Linked DNA regions of Homo sapiens: regions 2 and 3 are each linked to region 1. Evidence: fine-mapped expression QTL. A gene starts in region 1. Each other region holds a variant in brackets. All regions are shown on one strand. Distances are from middle to middle. Region 1 holds the start of DSTN (destrin, actin depolymerizing factor). Region 2 overlaps DSTN (destrin, actin depolymerizing factor). Region 3 overlaps RRBP1 (ribosome binding protein 1).

What was found. PIP is the estimated chance that this variant, and not a neighbour inherited with it, causes the effect. A credible set is the group of variants that fine-mapping cannot tell apart.
Region 2: its variant is the best candidate, but not a certain one, in a credible set for the expression of DSTN in whole blood (TOPMed, PIP 0.70).
Region 3: its variant is the best candidate, but not a certain one, in a credible set for the expression of DSTN in B cells (Fairfax 2012, PIP 0.69).

Annotation. Positions count from the first base shown.
Region 1 is chr20:17,566,506-17,572,944 of GRCh38, forward strand. It overlaps DSTN (destrin, actin depolymerizing factor), which reads left to right and starts at 3,570. Exons shown (of 4, transcript NM_006870.4): 1 at 3,570-3,706. The coding sequence starts at 3,704. It also overlaps a transcript of BFSP1 not described here. RefSeq lists an enhancer at 2,533-3,100 and silencers at 3,511-3,700, 3,721-4,010.
Region 2 is chr20:17,607,458-17,613,896 of GRCh38, forward strand. DSTN (destrin, actin depolymerizing factor) reads left to right here. Exons shown (of 4, transcript NM_006870.4): 4 at 1-2,462. RRBP1 (ribosome binding protein 1) reads right to left here. Exons shown (of 25, transcript NM_001365613.2): 25 at 6,222-6,439. Among named protein-coding and RNA genes, the nearest start is that of DSTN, 41 kb to the left of the region's middle. RefSeq lists an enhancer at 4,285-5,008. The variant AG/A (reference allele first, on the strand shown) is at 3,399.
Region 3 is chr20:17,673,228-17,679,666 of GRCh38, forward strand. All of the region lies in intron 2 of RRBP1 (ribosome binding protein 1), which reads right to left. Among named protein-coding and RNA genes, the nearest start is that of RRBP1, 5.8 kb to the right of the region's middle. RefSeq lists an enhancer at 6,309-6,439. The variant GA/G (reference allele first, on the strand shown) is at 3,841.

The DNA.
Region 1 (6,439 bases):
ACAGCAATTTACTTCTCATAGTTCTGGAGGCTGTGAAGTCCAAGATCAAGTCACCAGCAGATTCAGTGTCTGGTGAGAGCCCACTTCCTGGTTCATAGATGAACCTTTTTGCTGTGTTCTCACAATGGTGGAAGTGGCAAGCAGTAGTCTAGGACCTCTTTTTTTTTGAGACACAGTCTCGCTCTGTTGCCCAGGATGGAGTGCAGTGGCACGATCTCAGCTCACTGCAGCCCCTGCCTCCTGGGTTCAAGCAATTCCCTGCCTCAGCCTCCTGAATAGCTGAGATTACAGGTGCCTGCCACCACGCCTGGCTGATTTTTGTATTTTTAGTAGAGACGGGGTTTCACCATCTTGGCCAGCCTGGTCTTGAACTCCTGACCTCGTGATCCACCTGCCTCAGCCCCCTAAAGTGCTGGGATTACAGGTGTGAGCCACGGTGCCCGGCCTAGGACCTCTTTTATAAGGGCACTAATCCTATTAAAGGGGGCTCTGCTCTCATGGCCTAATCGCTGTCCAAAGGCCCCAACTTCAAATACCATCACATTGGGGATTACCTTTCAGCTTCCGGAGGGCATAAATCTTTATTAGTCTATAGCATTGTATGAAAACTCTTTCCCTCCGTGTGGAGAGGAGGAATGTCAATGTCTAGAAAAGCTGGGTGTTAAATGCAGAGGCTGAAGTTCAGTGGGACCTAAAAAAAATGGGGGCTCATCTTAAGTTATGATAAACTGATATATAAGTTTGATAAATTGTAAAACATCTTCAGATACTGGTTCACTTATTCAATACTTATTAAACACCTACTATGTATCAGGGGCTATGCCAGTTCATACATACGCATCTTAAATACCCCATGACCTCAAGGAACTCCCAGCTATCTGGTAGTAATGGAAAATGCACATAAATAATTACAGAGCTACAGTAATTGTAGGGAAAAAACCATGAAACCTCCTAACTCAAAGTATAGCATCTGCATCTCCTGGGGCCATCTAAGACTCCACCCCTCAACCCCGGAATCTGCAGTTTAACAAGGATCTCAGGTGATTTGGATCTTTATTAAGATTTGAGAGGTGGCCGGGCGCTCGGTGTCTAAGGCCTGTAATCTCAGCACTTTGGGAGGCCAAGGTGGCCAGATCACCTGAGGTCGGGAGTTCAAGACCAGCCTGACCAACACGGAGAAACCTTATCTCTACTAAAAATACAAAATTAGCCGGGTGTGGTGGCGCATGCCTGTAATCCCAGCTACTCGGGAGGTTGAGGCAGGAGAATCGCTTGAACCCGAGAGGCGGAGGTTGCAGTGACCCGAGATCGCACCATTGCACTACAGTCTGGGCAACAAGAGTGAAACTCAGTCTCAAAAAAAAAAAAAAAAGATTTGAGAAGTGATGAACTCTGGGATTATAGAAGGAACTAGGGGGGTGAAGGAGTTGTAAGGGGTACGGGGCACGAAAAAAAAAAAAAGAAGGAACTACTATTGATCCTTGGGAAGTGGTAAGAGAAGTCTTCAGATGCGAAGGGTGATAGGAACATCCCAGGCTGAAAAAATAAGCAGGCCCATGATCAAGGTAGTTAGAACTAGTAAGAGGTGTTCTGGAATGAGAAGTTTCGTCTGGGAGGGGCAGTGGGCACTTAGGAAGATATGGGAGATAGGGCAGAAAAAGTAGGCTGAGGCCAGAGGCAGACGGGCCAGACTGACCTGCTGAGGGTTATGGAGGAAGCCACAGCAAATTTTAAGCAAGAATGTAACAAGACCAGTCTTATGTTTGGACCTAACTCTGGTGGCAGAGTGGAGGACGAAATGCAGGAGAGGCTGGAGCAAGCAGGCAGGCATGTATCCTTAAATGAGCACCATTCACTTTTGGACTAGAAAGGAAGTCTGAATATTAAGAAGTGTAAGGGCCACAGGGTCCTAGGCAGGCAGAAAAGCAAAGGGTTCCAGCTGCAGGAGGATACAGGGGGGTTCCTTCTCAGTTCAGGAGTGTGGTCTCGGACTGGCATCTTCAGCATCACCTAGGAGTTGTTAGAAATGCCCATTCTCAAGCATCATCTTAGAAGCAGTGAGGGAACCTTGGGGATGGGGCACACAAATCTAGCTTTGAACAACTTTTCCAGGTGATTCTGATGCATGCTAAAGAACCACTGCTCTAGCCCGCCAAAAATCATGTCTCAGGTGGTAAAGGCTTAGAACTGCACAACTTACTGTCTTTTTTAAAAAGAACGAGGGTAATGAGAAATGGGTTCCTATGTTGAGTGGGGCAGAACAAAAGCCACATACAACCTAGATTTTACGTAGTGCCGGAAAAAAAAATACTGACCATCTTGTCCAAAAGTCTCATATTTGGAGAATTAAAATAGTTTTGGTCGAGGCCATGATGTTCTCGGTAACCTAAATTAATTTATAAAATTCTTTGTTCCCTTTATTTCCCACAAAAACACCCGCAGCAAAAACGCTGGGATTCATCTGGGCCCTCTGAAAACCGTGTTTCCGACGCAACCGCCCATTAGAAAAACACAATTCCAAATTAAAAACCCGGAGAACTGAGCGGCGGGGCTGGCGCCACCGTCCCGGGACAGCGCGGCCTTTCCCAGCCACACCCCTGCGCGCCGCCGGCCTCCTTCCCCGGCAGTTCCCAAAGATAAATAAATGCTCCTTGTTTTTCCAGACCTGAAATTAACGGTGACTCACAGAGCACTCTGCATGGCCACGGTCGCCTCGGGAAGGAGGAAAAATGTGCAGACTTTTTTCCCCTCACGCGAGGGCAGGACAAGCCAGACTGGGCCAATCAGGGGAGGGCGGCGGGAATCGCACCAAAGTAGGTAAAAAATGCGGGAGGCGTCCCCGCTGCCGCGGCCCGCGACTCCGCTCCCGTGGGTCCTCCCCCAGTGCGTTCCCCCTCCTCGGGCCCTGCCCTCCCAACCCCCAACATCTCTCTCCTTCCACCACTGTGTCCCTCTCCCTCACCTCTCCCCTTGCCCCCACCTCCCCCACTAAGTGCCCCCTCGCCCCTCCCCCCACATCCCCCTCCTCTCCCCACACTGTCCCCTCTCCCTCACCTCTTCCCTCCCCTCTCCATCCTCCTCCTCCCCCAACTATGTGCCCCTCGCCTCTCCCCTCCAAATCCCCCTCCTTCCCACACTCTGTACCCCTCTCCCCCGGCTCTCCCCTCCTTTTCCCCTCCACGGCCTCGCCCCGCCCCAGCGGCAGGCACACCTGGCCAGGTGGCTGCCTCCCCGCGCGGGCCATGCCTGCACAGTGGGTGGGGCGTCAGGTGGCCCCGCCGAGGAGGCGAAGGAAGGCCACCCCTCCCCCATCATCTTTTGCCCGCCCCTCGCCAGCAGGAGCCAGCCCAGTCCGCCTTCTAGCCTCCTGCAGACCAGAGAGGACGCACCCCCACCCCTAAACACTTTCTGGTGAGGCGGACCCTGCCCCGCAGCCTTCAGCAGATGAGGGAAGCTCCCCTCCGAGACTCTGGATAGCCGCCGGGGGGGCGTTGCCTGGCCGGCTGGTTGCGTAGCAACGGCAGGCGGTGCGTGACGTGCGCAGCCGCGTTCCGTCCTGAGGCGCGCCCGCCCCGGGGTAAGCTCGCGCCGCCGCGTCAGCTCAGCGCTGGGTCTCTCGGTCCCGCAGCCGTGAGGAGGACGGTCTGCATACTCGCTGCCCGCCGGCTCCCTCCCCCGCGTCCCTGCGACCGCCGCGGCGAAGATGGTGAGTAGGAGGGAGGCCGAGGCGTGGGCCGAGGCGGCCGGGAGCAGTGTGTCTCTGGGGCGCCGCGGAGTCGGGGCTAAGGGGGTGAGCCGTGCCTCAGCCCGGGGAGGGACCCGGTCCGGCTGCAGTGTCCGGGCTGCGGGTGAGGGGGGGTCTCTGGGCCTCCGTCTCCCGCCGTCCTGGCTGGGCCCCCGCGCCCCGGGGTGGATCCGCGGCTGTTGCGCAGCTCCCAGCTGGGGCGAGGCCGCCGCCCTGAGCGTGGCCTCTGCGGGTGTCTCCAGACCCGGCCTTGCAACAACTGGCTGGGGTCGAGCGCCCCCACCCGCTCTGTGAAATCCATCCGGGGGTCTGCACACCGAGGCCGGGGAGTGGGGGGCGGGGGGCGTCGGAATCCGGCCACCGTCCTTGTTGGCGTGGGTTTCCCCAGAGCTGGCGCTGAGGCGCTTGGTGACTTGTGCGCGTTCCAGCCCTTGAGGTCTGTCCATCTCAATAAGGAAGATAAAGCCTTTATGGAACAGTCCTAGAGCACGGAATGATCGCTAACGAGCAGGATCCTGGCATGATTTAGAACGGGGTGGCCTTGCAGCTCCTTTGTTTTTTTCTTTTTATCTGGCAATCGGCTTCCAGCAGCACTCTCGTCGTGCTTGTCAAGCTTGGCAGTGTCTGTTTTAACCCTTCCCTGCCCGATCTGTCCGTGTATGGTTAGAATTTTTTTTCTGACCTGTAGACAGTTGGACTCTGCCAGAACTTGGTGCGCAAGGTGTGGGCATGATGCTGGGATGCTGATACAACCAAATTTAAGAGCTTTAAAAACCATTAAAATACTGGAGTCACCAGAAAGTAAACAGGTGCTCATTAGTATATTCTATATGATGGACATTTTGCTTAATTTACATATTTTCCCCCTTTACACTGTCACTCTAATTAGCTATTTAAAAACGTATTCTCAACTGAACTATCAGTTGGAACATTTTGTCGTTTTCGTTAGTGTGCACACACTGTTACCATTTTTGGTCAGTGATTTGCAGGCGTAGCCTTACCAGACTTTGCTAGAAATATTACACTGTAATTGCATCTGTCTAGAAGCAGTTGGTACCAGCTTATCTGCATACAAACTGTTTTCACTGTATAACAGTTTTGGTTTTCTTAAGTTACTACAACTTCCGTGAACATGCAGGCGGCCCCTTAGTGAAAGAAAAGATAAACCGGTAGTTTCTTGATGACTGTAGATATGTATGTAATAGGGATTTGATACTGTTCAGTTTTTGGTTCTTCTTTGGTTTAATGCTGTAAGCTACAAAGTATCAGCATCTTGAGTCTTTTTAATATCTAATTATTAGAAATTTAATAACATTTTAAATGTATATGCTACTTTATACTGAAAGACTTAATCTAGGGGCTTTGAGTTATGGTACGCTTAAGACCATTCACTCTGTGAAAGTGCTTTGAAGCTGACTAGGGTCTGCTCTAGAGACTTCTGATTTGACATTATGCTTTTTTATTGAGTGGCTAATACAGACTTTATTTTTCTGTTTGAAAATAAGAGACCAAACATTTTACCTTTAGTTAAATGCTTAGTTTTAGTTAAAGCTTAACTAAATTCAAGGAAGGAAGGGTCTGTTATATTTCCTGGTTCTTGTGAGGAGTGGGAGAAATAAAAATTAGAAATGAGCGATTTCCAAATACGCTTCAAAATTGTTGGCTTTAGGGAGATCAAGAAGACCTTACAAGTTACTCTTAGAGTTCAGATTATAGACCCCCCATTTTTAAAGGTTATTTTTGTTTTTAGCCTTATGAGCGCAGGAGCATCTTTGTTTAGTTCAGTGATTAGAGAATATTGTGGGTATTATCCCAGAGTCTAGCACTTTGCTTTTAGCTCTTTTGGTTAGATGCTTGGTTCCAAGTTTCTTTTAAGATTAAATTTTAACTACCGATGGGTTTGTTCTAAATTAGCAGAATCACTTCCTTGTACTCACCAAGTCTTTTAGAAGCACCTGAAATAAAGCAGTTTGAAACCAGCTGGGCGCTTCAGGATGAGATTAGATGTTTTCAGATGTCTCCTCCAACAAAAAACAAACAACGTCTGCCTCCACGTGAACCACAATTACAGACCCCAAACAAAACGTGTGTGTGTGTGTACTGGGTGTGCCAGCCTCCTTATACAGAGATTGTTTAGTAGCCCATCATCAAGTTACTAAGGTTATTTGCTCAGTAGTTCTACTGGATATGGATTGAGACATCACACCTAGACTTGCCTAGCTCCTCTTGTAACCAGAGTATCTTTTATGCTTCTTGGAAAGTAAGAGTGTAGTCTTGCCCCTGAAGTAGAGTTAAAAGGTTTGCACGATAATCTAACCCTTAACCTTATCCTAATCTGGACTGTGGTCTCACAGACTGAACTAATTGGCGCAGTATTCAAGTATTCTAATACTTGGTGATTAGCAAAAACACTACAACCCAGTGAAATAGGTTGGGCATGTATTCACATGCCTATTTAACATATGAGAAAACAGATTGTAAAGGATTAATTGACTTGAGACAAATCACCTTTTCCAACTCCAAGTTTTAAAATAATAATTTTGAAACATTTTAAGCAGAAAAGTACACAGAATAACAGATCCTTTTGTACAGGAAAAACAGGGCTATCTTATTGCCATATTTCAGGTTTTTATGTTATCATTACAGCTAAATATGCATCATCTTCCTCATCCCACTCCCTTCCCTCCCTAGAGT
Region 2 (6,439 bases), 41 kb after region 1:
ACATCTTTATTAACCTCAGCATTTACTTTGTTTCTTTTGCTTAGGAAATTGCTCATAATCTGGTTATAATTTTGGTCCAAATTCTTTATTCTTCCTTGAGCTAAGCAGAATAATGGAATATAATATGTCTTCATAATATAACAACACTAATACACTAATAGTAAGATTAAGTTAGGCAGTCTTCTACCAAATGTGTAATGGAGATTGCCTCAAAATTGTGTCCACATAATCCACGCTCATCTTGCAAAGCGCTATTTCAGGCACATCATTGGAATACAGGAAGTAGCCCTGCACCTGCCAGTGAGCTCGCCATTCACTGATTGGAAGAGTGACCTGGCATCTTGGAAATCATTGTGTGTCTTCAGGAGAATGTGCAGTGTCTTGTAACAACTAATTATAATGCAAATTAGGGCTACATTGTAATCTGCTTTGTTAATGAAAATGATAAAACAGAATATTGACAAGCTAGGACACCTGTGGTATCTTTAATTGTATCTCCTTCAGAAGTTTGCTTCTTATGGTATAATAAAGTATGGAAGAATATTGAGTATATGTTTACTCTGGGCCTGGGAGAACTTAACTTTCTAGAGCAGTTTGTTGACTTGTGTGCAATGGGGAGAGGTACCATGATGACACTCACAGGGAGCCACTGTTCACTGACACTTGGAAGCGGTCATTGTTAATATCACGGGCGTAACACTTTGAACGATATAGAGATGCACAAACAGTTGAACTTAGAAGTAGCAGTATTGGCTTTATGTAATAAAGGAAGCATTTTTGACTTACCTCTCGTGTAATTTTCATGTGTGAATTGGGAATACAGGATTTTGCCTTCCATATGGGGTAAGGCATTGAGGTTTGGGTATTTCCAATAATTAAGAGTTAAGGTTGGCTGAGTGTGGTGGCTCACTCCTGTAATCCCAGCATTTTGGGAGGCCGAGGCAAGAGGATAGTTTGAGGCCAGGAGTTTGACAATCAGCGTGGGCAACATAGTGGGATCTCATCTACTAAAAATAAACAAAATTAGCCGGGTGTGGTGGTGCACGTCAGTAGTCCCAGCTACTTTGGATGCTGAGGTGGGAGGATCACTTGAGCCCAGGAGGTGAGCTGAGATCGTGCCACTGTACTCCAGCCTGGATGACAGAGCAAGACCTTGTCTCAAAAAAAAAAAAAAAAGTCACAACTCCCTCTGGTGAATAAGAAAGTTGGTGTAAAAGTTGGGAACGTTTTCAATGTTTATTACACTATAAGTGTAATAAATATTATACAAAATTATAAATTCACATTTAAAATTTAGAAAATAGAGAAAAGGGAAATTATACATTGTCCTACCACATGCCATCACATGGTTAGCATTTTGATACACAGCTGTGCATTATTACATGTCAAAGACTGCATATACTATGGTGGTCCCATACAATTATAATGTATTTTCTACTGTAATTAGATACACAAATACCATTGTGTTACAGTTGCCGACAGTATTCAGTATAGTAACGTGCTGTCCAGGTTTGTGGTCTAGGAGTAATAGGCTCTACCATACAGCCTAGGTGTGTAGTAGGCTATGCCACTAGGTTTAAGTGCAGTCTAGGGTGGGGAACATTTTAATGTTGATCCACATGCCAGGTGTTTGTGAGACAAGATTATGCTTTAATCAAAATATTTTGGAATTGTCTAGAAAATAGTGCTGGCTGCTTGTCATTCATCCTGAATTGCTTGTTTCTTTACTTTGTAGCAATGCTTTTAGTGTGGGTTTTGTTTTTTGAGACAGGGTCTCACTCTTTCCCCCAGGCTAGAGTGCAGTGGTGCAATCATAACTCACTGCATCCTTGAACTCTTGGGCTCCAGCAAGCCTCCTGCCTTGGCCTCCTAAAGTGCTGTGATTACAGGTGTGAGCCACTGTGTCCTGCTAGTGATTGTGATTAACAGGCCTCCAGGGAAGTGCCATAAGCCCAAGACTGCCGTACTCAAAAGTCAGCCATGTAGGTAAAGCAAGATATTTGGTCAAGGAGTTTTAGAAGGAGATTTTTCCTGTGGTGTTGGCTTAAGTGTGGCACTGTTGTGCGTGTGTGAGGTGTCTTCTGTGGGAAGGATTTCAAACAGTACAAAGGGATGTGATGTAAGCATCCAGAACTCACTCCAGAAATTGAATAAAATGCTAGTAGTTAGTCTCTAGGGGAACTTTTGAGAAAGTCTCAGTGGATTCCTGAGGCCCAAGAATTGTGCTAACAAGCACTCAAGGCGATTCTGGTACATAATTAGGGTTCAGACCTCAGCTGATTGGTCTACTGTTGGTCAGGAACAAAACTGCAAGTATACTCTGTTTCCAGAAAATACGTTTACCTCTTCACAAATGCTAACACACTGCAAAAATATGTTTGTGGAAAGCTGACTTAGTCTCATCTAGCGGTTACTCTCTTGCCCTGACAAAGCAGCAAATAAAGCCATTGCTAACAATTCAATCAGAGCTTGACTGTGAAGTTATCTCAGATAATATTACTCTGCAAAAACAGTGGACACAGTGACTTGGATAATAGGTTTGGTTTGGTGGTTTCCTTTCTGCAGAGTACCGGCTGCCGCAGGCACAGCAAGTGCAACTTGTTTCTTGACTATAATTGCCCTTCGGACCACCAGAGACTGAATATGCCCAACACGCATCACTTCTTCGTGATTTGGGGCATTTCTGAAATTGAGAACGGGCTCTAGACTGGGTTCCAGCTGGACTGCAGCTGGAAGGGACAGTAATGGCATTATGGCTGGTGAGGGGAGTATTCCAGGAGCCAGGGTTTCAGTGGAAGGCAGGCTTGAGTACCGTTTTGTTACTGAGGGCTCTCTGGGTTCTGCACAGTCCCAAAAGGGCACTGGGGAAGGGACTTATGGAGCCTCTGGCCAGTACCCTCAGTAACCAGCCCAGAGGTGAATTAACTTGCCTAAGGTTAATCGACTCACAAGTGGCAGAACTGGGACAAAAACTCAGATCTCTTGGTTTCTGTTCCTGAGCTATTTCCACCACCTCAGGAGAATTCACTTCATTCCTCTTATTATAATTGGATCATCTTTCCACATTTCTAACATCTGAAATTCAAAGGTTAGACCTTGTTCAGTGCTGGGGTGAGATTTGAAAGGGCCAAGAAGGAAAGCATTTCTTTTGCACTCTGAGCTCTCATCAGACCCAGCCCTGAAGGAAGTGTAGTGATGGCATCTGTGGAGGGCGTGGAGTGGCTTCTAGAACAAAACCTCGCTTTCCCCGCACCTGTCCCTCAGGCCTCGCTGGCTTCCTGCCTTCACTGCACCGCTTCCGTAGGTGTGGCCTGCAGGCGCAGCATCGTGGTGCCTGTGTGTTCCAGAATATCACATGGAGACACCTGAGGAAGCTGGTCAGGGCGCAGCTGTCTGTG[AG/A]GGGCTTCAGGTCTTGTTGTGCTGTCTATGGGCCATGTTAACCTGGAACTTCACATCTACTCTGTGGGCTCTGATCCATCTTCACCCAGCGGCCCAAACCCAGGGTCTGGCTTTGTGAAGCTGGGCCAGGGAGGAGCAGTGGTTCCTCTGTCGGGCAGCAGCTGGGTGAGTCCTGCCTCCACGGTGAACTTCATTCCAAGAACAGCACAAGCCAGTCCTCTGGTGCTGCCTGAGCTCGGCTACAGCTGCAGGACAGGGCTGCGAATGGCCAGGCCAGTGACCTGTGCCACGCTGGGGAATGCTGTGGGGCTGGGGGGGTGCTGCTAGCCCCTTCCGCAGGAAGTTTGCGAGGGCTGCGCCTCAGCTGGCTTCCCTGGAGCCTGACATGGAACCTGGCCTGGGACAGTTGAGGAGGCCCGGCCCACCTGAGGCAGGGCCCAGCCGGTGGCCTGGCAGACTCAGGCTCCCTCTGCCCACCTGGGAGGTACCACTGCCGGGCCTGAGGACTGCTCTGGCCCTGCTGGGGCAGGCGGGGACAACAGATGATGGGCCCTTAGAACGAGCTGCAGGAGAAAAGCTCCCAAGTGGCATTTTCCTGAACTCCCAGGCCAGCCGCACAGGAGTCCTACACCCTGTGCTACCTGCCTTCGGCTTCCTCCCTTCTGCATGCACAGACCTGGGGCTCCCAGCAGGTGGCCTGAAGGAGCAGGCTTTTAGCCAGAGTCCAGGAGGAGGCCACTGCCCCTCACAACCCAGAGGCGGCAGCGTGGCACCCCAGCATCCCTTGTCTCTTTCCCCAAGGTCTCCCCTTTCCGCTGCTCAAAATGGGTACCCCTGCCCCATTCCTGTGCCTTCAGAGGGGATCAGCCCAGCATGGAGCGCTCAGTCTCGCAGTGTGGCAGGTCGAGGGGGCGATTCGGTGGCAGCCCTGGCACAGGTCTGTCCGTTCCCCACACTCACCGGGGCCCACACCACTGACCTGACCTACAGCCACCCACGTGCAGAGTTCTGCCTCCTGCAGGCGGCCTCCCTCACCCAGAACCTGTGCTCCCACTCAGCCCCCTGTACCAGATGCATGGGGCGCGGATGCAGGGGGCCCAGTGGCTGTTGCGGGGCGCTCAGCCCAGGGTGTTCTTCCCCAGGCTCCCCACATTGCAGAGCCCAGCCCTGCCCCACAAGCACTGACCTCCCAGGCTGCGGGGCCTAGCCACGTGTCAGAGAGATGGGTTTGAACCTGCCCAGCCTTTAGCCCGGGGAGGTACCTTCACTTCCATGGGGCAGGATGCACCTCACCGGGAGGACCGAGGGCTCGCTGAGCGCCAGGCACAGGGCGGGAAACGGGCAGCCATCAGGTGTCCTTGTGGGCACTTCCTGCTACTCAGTCTCCCAGCCAGAAGCCAGGATGTCAATGTCCCAAGACCGTGGGATCCCTTTCTGCTTCAGCCTCCTCTAGAGAATTCTAAAACAGGCAGGCTTGGCTCTCCCTGCTCAGAAACCTCAGTGGCTGTACTGCCTCCCCAGTCCAGGGCCCCCCAGTCTTGGTAACCTGGCTCCACAACAGGCCGTGCCTCACCCCGCCCTCCACGCCTCTACGCTGCTGCTGCCTGAGTGCCAGCCTCCCTCACCTCACACACATCTGCTCTTCCTGGGAGCTCAGCTTAAGCCCACTTCTCCAGGGGCCTTCCTAGGACTCCCAGCACCCAGAACAGCCATGACGCACAGTGCCACATACCATAGCTGGGTGGCCCACAGGCACTTCCTGAGAACTGACATAAGGTCTGGGCCGAGCAGTTTGAGGCTAAGCAGTTCAAGGCTGCAGGCAGAGGCCGTGTGGGGGGCTGAGGAAGGGAGGCACACAGACGCACACCGCGGGGCTTCCCTTGGTCTTGAGGTTGTGAAAACCATCCGAGTCACTGCCACCACCTGAAGGGGCCATGCACGACAGAGATCCCAGAGCAGGCCACCTGCCAAGCTCATAGGCCTGTGGAGACCCCGGTTCTTGCTGCCACTGTCCCTGACAGAACCCTTCTCACAATGTCGTCCTGGAGGACCTGCCATCCAAGAGCCCAGTTGTCCCCCAGCCAAGTTCGGCCAAGCAGACCCTCTCCCAAGATTCCGAGGCTTGGCAGGGAGATTAAAGTGAACAGTCCTTGGTCAAGGCAGACCCGCCTTCCATTCCGGGCTTGGTTGGGGCCCTACTGTGACTCTGAGCCTCTGAACGTCTTTGTGGACTAAGCTCCAGGTTCCTATTGTTTACACTCAAAGGGACACACTTCTTGGGGCCAAAGACCATGCTGTCAGGGGCCGCTGAGGACACTGGGTCTGAGGGTCGTGGCAAACCTAAGCTGGTTTCTGCAGGTGAAACTCCACCTCCCGAGGGCAGGCAGTGGGCTGCTCCAGCCCTGGCCCACCCTCCTGGGGTGTGGGTGTCTAAGCCCCAGCCAGGACAGAGACCCCTTGTTCATTCCCGGACCTCCATCACGCAACAGCCCGGGCCACCAGCCGCGCTCACAAACCTCAGCCCCTCCGGGATGCGGGGCAGCAGTAAATGTATCTGGCTCTCAGGTGTCGCAGGCCCTGCTCCCTTATCCTGCCCGGAGGGCACTGAGGTCTGGGAGGTGACAAGGAAAACTGCTGGGGGCCCCGGAAGCAGCGAGTCTCAGCCCCACCCCACGCTACGCGGAGCTGCAGAGCCTCTGCCTTCAAAGCAGCTGAGGCCCACGCTTACTCTCTTCCCGAGTGCGCCCCCACCCCTTGGTTCTTCATCTTGGGCCCAACAGCGGGTGGGGGAGCCCCAGCAGAAGACCAGACGAGACCGCAGCACCGGGCACCAACGTTGGTTTTAATGGCATCAACACCCAGGAGGTCACACGTCAGTTCTGGTTGGCAACGTCTAGGGGTGAGGGGCTGTGGCCTCCAGTCGGCCCCACAGCCTTTGAGAACTGGCTGCCCGGTCCCACCCGCTTCCCGCCCCGCCCCACTGAAAAAACACTAAACGATTGCACTGACAGACAGACCCCAGAGCGCCCGGCCTCCCACA
Region 3 (6,439 bases), 110 kb after region 1:
TGTTACTACTGCCACTTCCCAGTGCTCACACCCACACAGGATCGCTCCCTTCACAGACAGGAAGTAACTGAGGCCAGGGTCAAGGCAGGCAGTCACCTCCTGACCTGACAGGGCAGTGACTCAGTGGGACCCACAGCCCTTTATAGTCCTGTGGCCATGCCACCTTGCTGTCCTGAAGTCTTTCTTTTTTCTTTTTTTTGTGATGGAGTCTCACTTTGTCGCCCAGGCTGGAGTGCAGTGGTACGATCCCGGCTCACTGCAACCTCCGCCTCCCGGGTTCAATTGATTCTCCTGCCTCAGCCTCCCAAGTAGCTGCGATTACAGGCATGTGCCACCATGTCCAGCTAGTTTTTGTATTTTTAGTAGAGACAGGGTTTCACCATGTTGGCCAGGCTGGTCTCGACCTCCTGACCTCAGGTGATCTGCCCGCCTTAGCCTCCCAAAGTGCTGGGACTACAGGCTGAGCCACCATGCCCGGCCCACCTGCAGTCTTTTTAAAATCAAACTGTACAGAATAAGTCTCCAGATCTTCCAACTTAAGAGGGATATGACTTAAGATGGAAAAGACTAACTTAGCTTCAGAGCAGTGGCTAAAGTTGACCTTTTAAGAGTCCTTTGACACATTACCAATAAGACTTTTTTCATTAAGAGTCTCAATAATTCATTTATTCTTCAGCATTGACTCCTTCCTCCCCTCAATCACTGTGATTACTATTCTGAAAATTAAGACTTTCCTTTCTAATTACTACAAATACCTAGAACTACCAAGGAAATAAAAATGTATTCATAAAACTAAAGCTACATCTAATTCCTATTCAGGATCAGACTTAATTAAAAACCAATTTAATGCAGTTGAGTTGCACACTTTAATCACTGAATGAGAACTTCAAAAAAACACACCACCTGGGTTTGAACAAGGGTCTTTCACCTTTCCAAGTAAAATGAGTAGGTCAGACATTCCCGTTAGAAAGGGCTAGAAATCTAGTATCTACTCTTCTTCACCTAAAATCAACAGGAGAGAAGAGGAGAAACAAAGGATGGGGCTGGACGTAGTATTGCCTCTTCCCAACCAGACCACCCTGCCTCAGCCATTGCTCCTCCTACTTAGTGGACTGCCACACAAAATTCCTCTGAGAAAAGAACATCACCATGAGGTGAGGCAGGAGAGGAACCTTGACCCCTCCCTCACTTCCTAGCACGATGAGGACTGACCAAGAGAAAACAAAATGTAATGCCAACTATAAGAATTCTCCCGGCCAGGCTCGGTGGCTCAAGCCTGTAATCCCAGCACTTTGGGAGGCCGAGGCAGGTGGATCACGAGGTCAGGAGATCGAGACCATCCTGGCTAACATGGTGAAACCCCGTCTCTACTAAAAAAAATACAAAAAAATAGCTGGGCTTGGTGGTGGGCGCCTGTAGTCCAGCAGGAGGGTGAGGCAGGAGAATGGCATGAACCTGAGGGCAGAGCTTGCAGTGAGCTGAGATGCACCACTGCACTCCAGCCTGGGAGACAGAGCGAGACTCCCTCTCAAAAAAAAAGAATTCTCCCTTCTCCCCCTAAGGAACATTCTTGCCCACTAAACACAAAATCTACCTCTTTTCAGAGCAGCCAGCACACTGTTCACACCCAAAACAAATGTTCTGTTTCCTGGTGAGTGTGTCGTCACTGAAATGCTCAGTGACTCTGCAAGGCCCACCTCACACTCATTGGTTATACAAGGAATTAAAGGATGCTCACAGCCAAGTCTCCTCCCCAGAACTGGTGCAAGCACCTGGGAAGGGCCCAGTTCTGTCAAGGTGCCATGCATGATGGACTCCCAGAGACACTGGGATGAATCTAACCAGGCTGGAGACTGAGGGCTCCCAGGAGAGAGCCAACATCCACATCGTCTCCTAAGGTTCACTTCAAACCCCAGCCTCCGCTGGAAGGGCAGGATGTCCACATTTAACAGTGCCCTCTGCATGTGACTGTCAATTTCTCAACTGGAGGCAGGCTGGAGGTAATCCAAACTTCACTTGCATTTGGCTCTGGAATATGTTTTTGTGTTTATATGTGATGCTCTAGGAATCCAGACTCCTTCAGGCTACATGATATACTCGCAGAACGCCAGTGCTACAAAATCATCTCCATTAGCTCAGCAAGAATGGGCACCTATTGCATGCTAGTCACTGCCCTCGACACTGGATATACCTCAGGAAACAAAAGCTACATCCCTGCACTGGTAGAGCTTACGCTTCAGAGGGGGAGATGACAAAGTCAGTCAAATACGGGACATGTCAGGGGGTGATGAAGAGAAAGTGATGCAGAGAAGGGGGGCAGGGAGTGGGGGTGGGAGAGCGTCAGAGGCTGACACTCCACACAGGGTAGCCAACAGGCCTGAAGGAGATGAGGGAGCCAGCCATGTGCCATCTAAGGAAAAGCTCTTAGGGATATGCCAAAGTAGACGCAAAGGCCCGGAGGCAGAAGCATGCCTGAGGAACAGAGGCCACCGTGGCTGCAGCAGAGGACAGGGAGATGGTAGGAGTGAAGCTAGAGCGAAAGTGCCCTGAGAGGCCACTGGAGACCTTGACCAAGGAGGGTCTTGAACAGAGGAGTGACATGGTCTGCTCTGGCAACAGACTAGAAGGCAGGGGGTATAGGCAAAGGCAGGGAGCCCACCAGAGGCTAGAGAAATAACCCGGGGCAGAGGTGAGAGCAGGCTGGGCATGCTGGCTCACGCCTACAATCCTGGCACTTTGGGTGGCCAAGGCAGGAGGACTCCTTTAGCCCAGGAGTTCAAGACTAGCCTGGGCAACGTGGCAAGACACCATTTCTACAAAAAAACCTAAAAATTCACTGGGTGTGGTAGCATGCACTTGTGGTACCAGCTACCCAGGAGGCTGAGGCAGGAGGATTAACTGAGCCTGCAATGTTGTAACTGCAGTGAGCAGTGATTGCGCCACTGTACTCCAGCCTGGGTGATAGAACAAGACCCTCTCAGAAATAAAAAATCAAAAGGTAAGAGCTGTTTGGACCAGGGAGAAGGCAGAAGTGGTGAGAATGGTCACACTGGCTCTGTCTGGAAGGTAGAGCTGATGGGACCTGCTGCGTACAGGGTACAGGTATGAGACGGCGAGGAGTTAAGGATAAACCGAGGTTTGTGGCCTGAAAGGTGGAGCTAGCTGGCCTAGTTTCATTTTATAGGAGGGAGAAAACTGAAGCCCAGGGAGGAGAAGTCATGTCCAAAGTCACTCACTCACTCCAGGGATCAGAACACCCAACCAGTGCTTCTCCCACTGCTCCACACAGCAGCTCCGTGGGACAAGCTGATGACTAGTCCGGTCACACCGGACAGCCCCCAGCACCCTGAGGGACTGCCAATACCCAAGCACATAACATATATTGGGGTAGGATGCTGGGCACTGAGAGCACAGGCCCAGCTTAGAGAGGACAAACACAGTCCACGGCTGCCACACAAGAAAGTCAACCTAGTGTAGCCAGAAATTCCCATTTTCCCCCAGAGAACCCAAAAATCTAGATTTTGTTTTTGTTTTTTATTATGAGACAGAGTCTCACTCTGTCGCCTAGGCTGGAGTGTAGTATGATCTTGGCTCACTGCAACCTCCACCTTCCAGGTTCAAATGATTCTCCTGCTTCAGCCACCTGAGTAGCCAGGACTACAGGCACATGCCACCATGCCTGGCTAGTTTTTGCATTCTTTATAGAGATGGGGTTTTGCCATGTTGCCCAGGCTGGTCTCAAACTCCTGGGCTCAAGCGATCCACCCGCCTTGGCCTCCCAAAGTGCTGGGATTACAGGGATTAGCCACTGTGCCCAGCCCAAAAAATCTAGATTTTAGT[GA/G]AAAAAAAAAAAAAAATTCCACTTTTAAAAGGTGACTCAATTGCTTAATAACATGAGGTCAGTGAAACAAATTCCATGTGAAGGCCAAGTTCAGCTCACACAGGGCACCAGTTTGGAATTCCTCTCAAGACAGCCTAACAGACCTTGTTTGCTTATACCCTAACAGACCTTGTTTGCTTATACCTTGCCCAGGATAGAGAATTAAAGATTTGAATTCAAGATGGTCTTTTATTCCAACTTTTGAGTCAGCAGATGATATTCATTATCACTATAAATAGTCTGTAACTTCCAGTAGTCTTAGTGGGCCTCCTTTCTGACCAGAAAGAGATCAAGTAGCTGTCCATCATTCAGCTTCTTCCTTTAAAGTTAAACTTTGGTTTTATATTATTCTTTACAGAGTACTAATACTAAGATGAGCCCACAAGTACAACCAAGAATTCAAAAATTATTCCCCAGTACTGCCCAATGATCCTTTCGAAGTTATATGGAGGCCGGGCACGGTGGCTCATGCCTATAATCCTAGCACTTTGGGAGGCCGAGGAGGGCAGATCACCTGAGGTCAGGACTTCTAGACCAGCCTGACTAACATGGTGAAACCCCGTCTCTACTAAAAATACAAAATTAGCCGGGTGTGGTGGCGCATGCCTGTAATCCCAGCTACTTGGGAGGCTGAGGCAGAAGAATCACTTGAACCCGGGAGGTAGAAGTTGCAGTAAACCAAGATCACGCCATTGGACTCCAGCCTGGGCAACAAGAGCGAAACTTTGTCTCAAAAAAAAAGAGAAAAAAGAAAAAGAAAAAAAAGTTATATGGAGAATAACAGAGCTGTGTAAATAGTCACTGGTGTAGGAAGCAATTTATGCCACCCAAGAACACTGGAACTCCAATACTTTGGAACTGAAAAGGTTTCGGGACTGGGCAGGTATTCTAGTCTTGCCAAAAAAATCTAAGTTAGAAATCACAAAATGTTCTTGATAAGTTAAAGTTGCTGCCCATTGTTGACAGGTGGAAGACACATGTTACTGAATGCACATAAAGGACACACACGTCTGGTTTTGGGGGTGTCTGGTTGTCTGCTTCAGGAGACTCGGCCAGAATTTGTCTGCCTAAGAAAAGTCTCCTAGGAGGCCCCTGAACTAATTTTCTATATGCTAAGTGAGAGTGCCTCCTTGCCTAGGCACTGTCACTTAAAATTAAATATTTACCTTCCCTTACAAGCCATCACTTTCTACCTAATATCAATTTATTTTCTGTCTTTGTTACAAGTCACCATTTTGATGCTGAGGGCATTGGGTAAAAAATCTCTCCAGGAAAGGGCCACTATCTGTGTGGCCCCCCTCCCACTCCTTTTTCTTGGAATGCAGTTTACAATGCACACAAAGAGGCGGGACTAATGCTTTCTCAGGGTGAGATCTTATCAGGTGAAGTGTATCAACTGCCACTAGTCAACTGGTTTTGACCTACAGAATGGGCAATTTCATGTGGTTCAACATATTACCACATGATCAAGAGGAACAGGGACATGAATGTTTACAGAATACCAGCTGCCTCTACATCAGCACTGTCTAGAACTTTCTGTGATGGTGGAAACCATCTACAGCCACGCTGACCAACTTATGACTACTGAGCACCTGAAATGTGGCTAATTTGACTCAGAAATTGAATTTTTAATTTTACTTAATTTGAATTGTTTTAAACTTAAATTGCTACTTGTGGCTACTGTATTGGACAACACAGTTCTAGACAGTAGCTTTTTCAGGCAAGAACTAGGTCTCACTTGCGGTGTTTGAAGGCCCACCACACAGGAGACCCTCGGTGAAAAAAATGAAATGAAAAATACCTTCAGCACTGCCAGATTTTCAAAATGCCTCCCCACCTTCCTGCCACTGAAGCTCTTAATTTTGATCTTCACGTTCTGTGTCCTCCCTTGGGTAATTATTGCCCCAGGAAGGTGGAGGTATATAGCCAGGAGGGAACATTTGGAAGGCCGGGCCCACATCGCCTAGCAACTGGGCAACAGGAACTGGCCTGACAACCTTCTGACCAGCTGGACCTCCACATTCTCATCCACTGAATGGGTGACAACCATTCCCACCCCCTAGAACAGGGTTATTTTAAGGCCTAAATGTAAACCACAGTTGTGGAATCTGATTCTAAAAAGTGAACCTTAAAAACCAAGTTGGGCTAAGCTTCATTTATCCAATGAGACAGCTGGGAATAGTTTAACAGGTATGGGGGCGCTGTCCGCCTGGTATAACCAATATTTATGATGTTATAGGCCAGGCCTTAACCACTGCAGGCCCAGCATGCACAGACGGACAGCACAGTCCCTGCCTTCATCATTCTGACTTGACCATTATTTTTGTTTCTCCTGAAACAAGATTTTAGCAAAGAAAAACTTGCTGTCTCAACAGAACTGTTGATCCTCTATGTGTCATTCATCTATTAGTTAAAATTCCCAGGGCTAAAAAGACAAGAAGAGTCTGGGGTCCCGACACTTTTAAAAGGTGTCCCTGCTACATAATAAATCAATACTCCAATTCAATCACTGGCATTCAACCATTTAAACTGAGTTTGCTGCTATGTAATTATTGCAGC